Regions from separate parts of the Homo sapiens genome. Here region 1 is linked to region 2. Evidence: fine-mapped expression QTL. A gene starts in region 2. The other region holds a variant in brackets. All regions are shown on one strand. Distances are between the middles of the regions.

The links. PIP is the estimated chance that this variant, and not a neighbour inherited with it, causes the effect.
Region 1: its variant is the best candidate, but not a certain one, in a credible set for the expression of IL11RA in whole blood (TOPMed, PIP 0.77).

The regions. Positions count from the first base shown.
Region 1 is chr9:34,628,209-34,633,627 of GRCh38, forward strand. It overlaps ARID3C (AT-rich interaction domain 3C), which reads right to left and starts at 858. Exons shown (of 8, transcript NM_001017363.4): 1 at 709-858. RefSeq lists silencers at 667-766, 817-976. The variant C/T (reference allele first, on the strand shown) is at 2,687.
Region 2 is chr9:34,649,769-34,655,085 of GRCh38, forward strand. It overlaps IL11RA (interleukin 11 receptor subunit alpha), which reads left to right and starts at 2,417. Exons shown (of 13, transcript NM_001142784.3): 1 at 2,417-2,465. It overlaps GALT (galactose-1-phosphate uridylyltransferase), which reads left to right. Exons shown (of 11, transcript NM_000155.4): 11 at 601-1,267. The coding sequence ends at 681. RefSeq lists a silencer at 2,373-2,472 and an enhancer at 5,054-5,317.

The DNA of each region.
Region 1 (5,419 bases), 22 kb before region 2:
TTCCCAGAGGTGAACAGAAACAGGACCAGACCCGGGGAATCAAATGGCCATTGACTGAGGACTGGAAGAGTGAGCAGATCAGAGAGGGTGACGGGGACCAAGAGACATCGGGAAATGGTGAAGGAAGGGAGAGAGAAAGAAAAGGAGAAGGGGGATGTCCGACAGAGACAATGACAGGGAGATGTGAAAATAGAGATGGAACAGGGTGACAAGGAGAGACAGAAGTGGGGTGACACAGAGACTGAGAGGGACCAAGATGGAGAGAGGCAGAGGTATCAGGCAGAGACAGGGTAGACAGACAGAGATGGAGAGAGATAGAATATTGGGTAGAGAGACAGGGAGGGTAAGAGAGGTAGAGGAGCAACAGATAAAAGACCTAAGTGACAGGTAGCTCAGAGACGGACAGAGACGGAGAGACAGAGGCGGAGATAGACAAATAGACAGGGGTTGAGATATAGGGAAAGACCAAGACAGCAGGAAACGGACAGAAGAGAGAGATTAGAAAGAGACAGTTAAATAGAGAGGGACCGACAGAGACAGGGACGGGAAAAACAGCCGGAGAGAGGGGCAGAGGACAGGGACCAAGGAGTCGCGGGGATGGAGGGCGGTGGGGCAGAGCCTGGGACGGGCACGGGACCGGACGGGCAGGAGGCGGCAGAGTCGCGACGCCCGGCTCCCTCGCTCCGGGCGCCCCGCGGCCGCACTCACCTGCCTGGCGTGGCCCGCTGCCCCTGGCGTCTCCACGGCGCTGCCTTTGCTCCGCCCGCCTCCCAGGCGGCCCTGGCCTCGGCTGGGTCCCGGCGGTGCGCTCCCGCCGCCCTGTGCTCCTCTGGCGGCTGTGCGCTCACTCGCCGCGCTGCTTGCGGCGGCCGCGGGGGCGGGACCCGAGCGGGGCAGGGCGGGCGGGGCGCATGGGGAGAGGCCCCTGTGGGATCTGCCGCTCTCAGCTCCCCAACAGGTGTCTCCCACCTTCTTTCCAGCCAGCTTCGGGGGCAGGGGGCGCTGGAAAGCTGCGGGGGAATCGTGCGAAAATGAGGGCTCTACCGCCACCGGACTCCGGACCAGAGCCCCGCCCAGCCTCACAAGTCGTGCCCCCGACACCCACACTCGGCACTGGGCTTCCACATACAAATAGCCGCATCCACACACCAACACACCTTGTCACAAGTTCAGGCGCATAGCTTCCCAGTCTCACACGTTCCGTGACATGGTCACCACAGTGCCAATGGCCTGGGCACGCTGTGATCAAGAGGGGAATCCCTCTGCAAGATGCTGGGGTGTGCGTGGAGGGTCTGGTCAGAATAGAAGCTTCTCCCTTTGCCTTGAGCACCCCTGCCCTGCCTACGTGCTGTCCCCCACTGCGGGCATGCTGCGGTTTGCACACATGAGTGCACATGGTGGTGGACCCACACCTATGCACTCACACACTCTCAGAGGTCTTTAAGCTGACTGCACACTCACCGCATGCAGATACACAGCCACACACAGTTTTTGTCTCTTTTGACATTCTATTATGGAAATTTTCTTTTCTTTTCTTTTTCTTTCTTTTCTTTTTTTTCTTTTTTGGAGACAGAGTCTCTGTCACCCAGGCTGGAGTGCAGTGGCGCGATCTGGGCTCACTGCAGCCTCCGCCTCCCAGGTTCAAGTGATTCTACTGCCTCAGCCTCCCGAATAGCTGGAATTAGCTGGGATTACAGGCGTCCACCACCAGACCCGGCTAATTTTTGTCTTTTTAGTAGAGATGGGGTTTCACCATTTTGGCTAGGCTGGTCTCGAACTCCTGACCTCAAGTGATCCACCCACCCTGGCCACCCACAGTGCTGGGATTACAGGCATGAGCTACCGTACCCAGCCTGTATTATGAAAATTTTGAAACATAGACAAGTGAATAGTATAATGAACCTCTGGTACTCATCATAGGTTTGTTTCAACAGTGACCGGCACTTCGCCCATGTTCACACACATTCTCCACCTATGTGTGCCTGACTGCCACATCTGTATCTCCAGACCCCCTCAGCCCACTGCTTTGCGCCCTCCCCCTAACTATTCCCAAGACGCTGAAATGCTGTTCCTTATTTGGGGGTTCTGAGTGGCAGGCCTCTCAGAATTTCTGCTCTGAACAGCCTGGACCCCACTCCTCCCGGGAATCCTCATACTTCCTATTTCTTCCTGTGCCCAAGGGGACCACTTACCAAACAGAGGGACACTGTGAGGTGATGCCAAGTGTGTAAGTGAACAGCAGGTGTCTGTAGGGGTGACACTTGGCATAGGTATGAAACTGTGGCACCAGAGACTGTCTTCTGACCTCACACCCCCAGAAGGCAGGAATCCAAACACGACCTTTGTCTCCTCCCTCCTCCCTTGTCCTCTCCCAATCAGTCCACTCCTCTCAGCCTCAGCTTGCTCTGGCTCAAACCACCGGCTCTTCTGACCATGGTGGGTCTGACCATGGTGGGTGCCTCCTCCCTGCTCTCCCTGCCTCCAGCCGCCACCCTTCTCTGCACCCTTCTGTGCCCAGCTTCTACTGCAGCACTAAGTCCTGGTTCTCTATGGCCCATTCCTGGCCACGCTGAGGCTCACCCCATTCATTCCTTTGGCTGCCCCAGTGTCCTCCACCTCAGATTTCAGACCTCTGAGCCCATCAGAACCCCCCAGCCTCCAGAAGCTCCAGTGATCCAATCACTGT[C/T]GGTACTGATGCCTCCTCCCCCATGGCTTTGTTTGGTGTGAGTATCCTGGGGCAGAGCCAAGCCTCCTCCTCTGCCCAACCCTCCCTGATGCTGGGAGGGGAGAATCAGTGAATGTGCCAGGCAGACAGACATGCCCTGGAAGTCTACTGGAAGACTGGAGAGCAGAGGGTAGCAATCCACAGAACCCTTGTGCCCTGCTTGCTCCCTTTTCCCCACCACAGCTTCCCCTGGCTGCTCAGAGGAGGTCCATGGACAAAGGTAGGTGGCCAGAGTCTTCCTAGAAAGGTAGGAATTGGCTTGGGGAAATTCCAGTTCTGAGTGTTTGGAGATCGCTTTGTAGGGTTTGGGTTGAATGGTAAGGGGCTGGGCAGTCACTCCCCCAGCTCCCAAATCAATCAAGCAAAGTTAATCCACTTTTGGGGTCTGGGCCAGGAGGGCTACAACTGGGAAGGGCTGAGGGGAAGGAATATGCTTGACTGGGACTTGGTTTATCTCTCTTCATCTGTGAAAAGGAAAGGCTGCCTCTCATACCCGCAGTCTGGTCTTATACCTCACAGAGACGGAGACAGACCTAGACCTTCAGAGACCCATGCTTCATTCATCCAACACATATTTATTATCTATTTTTTTTGCCAGGCACTGTTGGACACAGGAGCAAATAAGACAAAGTCCTTATTATAATGGTACAATTCTAAGTGGGGGAAATATACAGTGTGTCAGATAGTGGTAAGTACCATGGAGAAAAATGTAGCTGGGTTGGGGGGAACATAAAAGGGGGCATTAGTTACCTATTGCTGTGTAACAAATCACCCCATAATTTAGCAGCTTAAAACAAAAACATTTATTTTCTCACAATTCTGTGGGTCTGGATGGTTCTGACTCATTGTCCTCTAAGGTGTTGTAGTAAAAAGGTTGGCCAGGGATGCAGTCATCTGAAGGCTTGACTGGAACTGGAGGATCTACTTCCAAAATGGCTCACTTGCATGGCCCTTGGCAGGGGGCCTGTTCCCCCCGCAATATGGGCCTCTCCATAGGATTGCTTGTATGTCCTCTCAACATGGCAGTTGGTTTCCCCCAGAATGATCCAAGAGAGACTCTTTAGACAGCAATGCTTTTTATGGCCTAGTCCTAGAAGTCACACACTGTTATTTATGCCACATTATTTGTGAAAGTACATAATTAAGTCTAGTCCACTCAAGGGGAAGGAATTTAGGCTTCACCTCTTGAAGGACAGAGCATCAAAAATTTTGTGAAGGTATTTCAAATCACCATGCAAGAGATACTATTATATAAGTGTTGAAGAACTCAGTGAGCAGGAATTGAAGGAGGGGAGGAAGAGAGCTATGACTACGTGGATACCTAGGGACGAGCACTACGGTCAGAATAGCAGGTACAAATATCCTGGGATAGAATTTTGCTTGATGTGTTGGAAGAAAAGCAAGGAGGCCACTGGGTTGGAATAGGGGGGCTGAAGGGGTGAGTGGTTGGAATGTCTGATCAGAGGAAACATGGGCCTTGGAGTAGGCCCTTGTAAGGAGTGAAAGGACAGAATGAGATGGAAAGCCACTGGTTAGGTCTCAGCAGAGAGTGAAAGTCTGACTGGCTGCTGCGTGGAGAACCCTCCACACAAGATGCATGCGTGAAGATCAGTTAGGGGGCCATTGCAATAGTCTATAGGCAAGAGATGATGGTGTCTTAGACCAGGGTGGGGGCAGTGGAGGTGAGAAGGCATGATTAGAGTCTGGATATATTCTGCAGATAAAAACAGTATTTGATGATGGATTGGATGTGGGACATGAGAGAAACAGATGTGTCCAAAATGACTCTGGGCAGCTGGGTAAATGGAGGTGCCCTTAATTCACAGTAAAGACTACAGGATGGTGGTGGTGTGGGGCTGGGAGAGAATTCGGTTTGCTTTGGATATCTCAAGTCTGAGATACCTATTAGACAGCCAAGTGGAGATGTTGAGTAGAGATGAAGGCAGTAAGATTTCCAACTCTGGTGCTCAGGGCAGAGATTTAGGCTGAGACAAAAATTTAGAAGTCAAGATATATAGATGGTAAAGTCACAGAATCACCTGGGAAGGGGTGTAAACAGAAGAGGTTTGAGGACTAAGCCCAAGAAAGTCAGAGAATGAGGAGATAGGAATCCAGTAGCTGGGTGCAGTGGCTCACACCTGTAATCCCAGCACTTTGTAAGGCCAACATGGGCGGATTACTTGAGGTCAGGAGTTTGAGGCCAGCCTGGCCAACGTGGTGAAACTCTTGTCTCTACTAAAAAAAAAAAAAAAAAAAATTCCAGTAAAGGAGGCAATTAAGGAGGAGTAGTGTCCCAGAAACTAAGAGTGCCTTCAGAGTGATTACCCTGTGTCAAATGAAAGCTAAGAACTATGAAACGACCAACGGATTTAGCAGCAGAGATTAGGAGGGGCCTGGGAGCCTAGTCCTTTGTGGACGTTTGGGAGGAATGACAGGGCAAGCTGGGTCATCCCTGACATGTGGGCTCTGAGCCTAGAGGCAGAGCTGGGTTACAGAGTAGGAATCCCCCAGGAGGCATGGATTTGCAACCTGGGGTGAGTGGAGAGGAGCCAGCCAGGGCCTACTATGCCTGACACGGTGGTATTGGGGGTGAAGAGTCGGTTTCAGGTTGGCCAACTTACCTGGACTCCACATTCAGTCACAAATTGACTTTTGATGTTGTTTCTAAATGCAGTTATACATATAGTCTTTCGG
Region 2 (5,317 bases):
AACCCAACAGTCATGACCCTGATAGTTTCCCATAACAACCTGGGCATTCCTTGGGACTCAGGAGCTGCTAAACTCTTTCATCCCCTGGTGGCTTCAGCAGTCCTTATCACCAGCCTCACAATCCCACAGGCCCACCCCCAGTGGGCCTGTGGCATTCATATTTCATATTCATATTTCAAACCACAATATCCAGCAAAATGTCTCCTGAGCACCCAGAACTCCATACCATCGGCCGGGTGTGGTGGCTCATGCCTTAATCCCAGCACTTTGGGAGGTCAAGATGGGAGGATTGCTTGAGCCCAGAAGTTCGAGACTAGCCTGGGAAACATAGGAAGCCCTCGTCTCTACAAAAAAAATTTAAAAAGTTAGCCAGGTATGGTGGCATATACTTGTGGTCCCAGATACTTGGGAGGCTGAGATAGGATCACTTGGGCCCAGGAGTTTGAGGCTGCAGTGAGCCATCATCATGGCATCATTGCATTCCAGCCTGGGCAACAGAGCAAGACCTCGTCTCAAAAAAAAAAAAAAAATGAAGTCCATGCCACCATTCTTGGCAGCCCAGCCCTTATCCTCCTTAATTGCTCCCTGTCCCTTTTCCAGGCTGCAGAGAGACTAAGGGCACTTCCTGAGGTTCATTACCACCTGGGGCAGAAGGACAGGGAGACAGCAACCATCGCCTGACCACGCCGACCACAGGGCCTTGAATCCTTTTTTGTTTTCAACAGTCTTGCTGAATTAAGCAGAAAGGGCCTTGAATCCTGGCCTGGAATTTGGGCAGATATAGCATTAATAAAACTGTGCATCTCAAACTTTTATCACATACTCTAATATCAGAGGAGTGTGAACCTTCAGAGATCTAGGGTTAAAAGCTAAAGGCATAGCTCCAGCTACAACTTTTCTTTGTCTACAGATGTGTAAAATCTTGATGCAAAAATCTACCCCAAATTTCTGAACAAAATTAATATTCAGTATTATATCTAGCCTATAGATTCTCTTACTCTTGGTGTAATGACAGCATTCCCAGTTTAGGAAACTGTTTTAAAATCTTGTGTCTTGGTTGTGGCTGAGGCTTTGGGAAGGCCAGAGCCCCCTTTGCCACCACCCCTAGGGTGTCAGCTCCAAGCCTGGGCCTGAGGGTTTGATGGGGAGCGGGTGAGCTGGATCCTGATCCCAGTGGTCAGTGGCCAGATCCTGGGCTGCTGGCCAGAACCCTGGCTTTGTGAGTGGCTGCAGCTTGGCTCTGCTCCAGCCCACAGGGGCTAAAGGGGCGGGTAGGGAGTGTGTAGGGAGCGTGTACGTGGCTTTGTGTCCTTGGCTCCTCCAGACTCTCACATGTGCGGGCACCATATACTTCTGCTGCCCTTGTGCCCCAATCATTGCACAAACAGAAACAGCTCTGACAGAGAAGGGACTGCTAGAGTTAGGAACCCTAGGGCCTGGAAGGAAGGTATGGCTCTCAGAGTGACCTGGGGTCTATTCAGTCCCCTCTGGACCTGTTTCCCTGGCAACGCTGTGGGAACAACAGTCTATGCAACACAGGAGACCTGATGCCACTGGTGTCCTCCAAATTTTAAGGCGAAGGCAGGCATTGTGAATGATGCAGGGATGGCCAGAATGGTTTTTGCCTTCGTTCTTTCCCCAGGGGAACCAAGCCTGTGGGTGGGGAAATCACACTAAGGCTGGACAGTGACTGAATCTGGCCCAGGAGAAACTTGGCTGCCTGCCTTCCAGACCAGGGTTTTTCTTCCCTGAGATCCTGGAGGGGAAGTACCTGGAACTTGGGAGTGTTGCCCTGGTCTGGAAGATCTGATAGACATAGTATGCACACATTTCCCTCGAGCTTCCCATGACTGGGGAGTAGATGAGAACCCTGAGTGGGTGGCTGGTTTCTTGAGGCATACATATACCCGACACACCTTACACCTCTGATTTGGCTGCATTTTGGAATCATCTGGGAAGTTTTAAACAATACTGGTGCCTAGGTCCAACCTCCAGAGACTCTGATTTAATTGGTATGGGGTGGGGTTTTGCAGTTTTCAAACCACAATATCCAGCAAAGTTTGAGAACCACTGCCCTACACAGCCCTCCTTCTTCTTTATCTTATCTGGAGTCAGGGGCACCTTCAGCTTCTCCAATCACCTGGCCAGTGGCTCTTGTTTCCAGTCCTGCTGTTCCAGGGTGGATAGGCCTTCAGGCGGAGACCCAGGAATCCAGCTCCAGACTCTGTCCCAAGCAGCCTCTTCAGTCCGGGACGGGACAGGAAGTGTCCGGCGGAGGTGGGGGTGGAGGTGATTGGCAGTTGGAGTCTCCAATGGGCCAGGAGCCCCCCTATTTCACTCCTCTCCTTCCATTGGCGCCTGGGCGGAGCCACCCCCGCTGCGGGGGCCCAGGGCGGGAGGGAGTAGAGGCCGGGGCAGAGGGCGAGGGCGAGGGCAGAGGGCGCTGGCGGCAGCGGCCGCGGAAGGTGAGGCCTGGTGTAGACGCCAAAGTCTTGTCAGGAGTGGGCGGGGCAGGGTGATGTATGATCTGAAAGGCCGGGAGTGACTAACGACTGTCAGTGTGTATGTGCCTGTGAGGCTGTGTCTGTGTGACAGTATCATTGTGTGCGATTCTGAGTGTCACTTGGTGCAGCTGTCAGCTAATGTGACTGCGTGTGTCAGTGTGCATGGAGCTGGAGGTGCATGTGGCTGTGCAAGTGTGGGATTATGTGTGTATCTGTCAATGCACATTTTTGGTGGGACTGGGTTGTGTGTTTGTGTGAGAGGGACTGTGACCACATGAGGGAATGTGTTTTGGGAAGGTCTCTGTGGGGTTTGAGACCATGTCTGCCAGCGTGAGAGTGGGTGGCTGGCTTTGTGTGTGCCAATGTGTGACTTCAGCAGTAGCAGAGCAAAAGTGAGGTTTGTGACTATGTGTGTGTCCTGGGTCCTAACTTAAACCGTGTGGGAGTACAGCTGTATTCATGTATTGGGGGACCTACCTCAAGAGCCCATGGGACTGACCTTTCTCTTAAGTGTCCAGCATTGACAGACACACCCACAACACACGTGGCTTCCCCTCCTTCCTCTGCTCAAGAATCCCCAGCATCAGGTCTACTGCTCCTTATTTTCTGTTTCCCTGCTTGGCTCAGTTTCCCTTACGTGCCGTTTTCTGTCCCTATTGCTGTCTTACTAGAGATACCTCTGTGTGTTTCTTCACAGCTTTGTTCCCCTGGTCTCTCTGTGTGGGTGCATTTCCAGTTTTGCCTTTCCTTTCTCTCTGTCTCTCTCTGTGCCCCTATGCCTGCCTTCCCTGCTGATCTTGATCTCTGGCTAGTTGGGGGCCTGTAACAGTGATGAGATGCGGGTCTGCCCCGGCTAAGAGCTCCCTGAGAGAGGGGGCTTAGACCATGATGAAGAGTTGCTTTTAGGCGGTGCTGTGAGCCCTGGTAGGGGCTGTGTGCGTGTGTGACTGCGTGAGTGTATGAATATGTGTAAGTGTGTCTGAGTCTGAGGCGGTGTGGCTGTGCCCGTGTGACTGTGAGTGACCGCATGTGAGAGTGTATGAGTCTGAGGGTAACTGTGGGTCTTGTGTATCTGGCACCAAGGGACCAAAGGCATTTCCTGGTGCTGGGGCCCAAAGAATGGAGGGGGAGGTGAGAAATGGCTGGAACTTCCAGGGGAGGGGGAACTGGACTCTTTGGCCTCTCCTTATATCCCCCAACCTGGGGCCTCCCTTCCCCTGGAAGCACAGCCAGCTGTACCCTAAGGAAACATTTGGTGAGGAGTGAAAAGAGGGGGAGTTTGTATCTGATTTTTCATTTGATTGTGTCCACGTGTGTTCAAAGGCATGCCCTTTTGTTAACTGTGCCTCTTGAGTCTGTGTGTGAATGTGACTGTGTCTGGCTGTGTGAAAACACAGGGCATCTCTCACTGACAGGGACATAAGTATTAGCCACCCTCCTTTCCCTCTTGCTGGCCTTGGCTGTGTCTGTGGCTTCCTTTCCAGACTTGGGGGAGGCCTCTTCCCTTCCCAGGGCCTTGGGTGGGAGGGAAGGAGGGAGGAGGCAGGAGCAGGGAGGGGGCCTGGCTAGGGGCGGCAGAGCTCCAGGGCTTAGAGGGGGCGGGGCAGGGAAGGGGAAGGAGGGGATGGCTCTGGGGTCCCAGAACTGAGTGGAGTAGGAGACGGGGGCTGTAGCTGGTGAGAGGAAGTCCTAGAGGCTATGGACACTCTGCTGCTGGGATCACCGAGGTAGGGTGGGGCTAAGCAGGGTAAGTGTGGCTGGGTGGCCAGGGGTGAGCCAACTGGACACACTCAGACAGACACACAGACAGGTGGAGGCCCTGCTCTGCTCTACTCCTACTCCTGAAGGGTCCGTGCTCTTCCTCTTCTGGTCTTGTTCCCAGAGCCCTTTCCCCGCCTGCCCCTTCGTTCTCCATCCACTTCACCACTGCCTTCCTCCTTCTGCTCCCCCTTGTCCAGAATCTCTCTCTCCTAGCATCCCCCACCTGCCATATAGACACACTGTTAGCTTTTTGAGTTTCCGCTGACCCCAATCCAGTCTTTCCAACACTTCCCACACTGCCCCATCACCTCCTAGTCCTGATCTCTGAGTATCTCTTGGTGCTGTGGCCCCCATGCCTGTCCCTGCAGGCTCCCAGTTCCTCTCAGCCTCTCATCCCCTTCCCTCCCCTCCCCTCCCCGCCACCCTGTCTCCATTTCCATCTGCTGGCTCCTCGCCCACCCCCAGCCTCTGGCAGCAGCCAGGGCATCTGGATCTGCTTAACTACACAGCCCCAGCCTGCACCCTAGCCCCATCCAGCTTCACAAACTGGAGACCAACGAAGTGTCAAGAGCCAGGCCCAGCTGAGTGGCCCAAGTAGCCAGACCAAGGAGCCAGGTTCAGGCGAGAAGCCTGGCAGCCAGGGCAGGGGTGGGCCTCAGGGTGGGAGTGCAGGATGGGCTCAGATCCATGATGACACCCTTCCCCCAGGGTGATAAGGTCTGCCTAGGTTAATCAGAGGCAGTGATAAGCCCTGGACCAGGTGGGGGTAAATACCAGAATTCCCAACAGCTGGACTGGAGGGGTTAATGGGAGTGGCTGAGCTGGTGCCAGTGCTTGGTGCCAGGGGTGGGCGCCAAGGGCAGTGGAGGGGGAGTTGCTGGCACAGTCTGTTGCCTCCGGCTTTTGTTCTGGGCCCTAAGCCCAGGACTGAGATGGAGGGTGTGAGGGGGTGTGTGTGTCCGTGTGTGTGTGTGTGTGTGTGTGCGCGCGCACGCACATGCAAAGCACTGGGTATACAGTGGGAAAGGGGACCTCAGGTCAGTTCCCGCAGT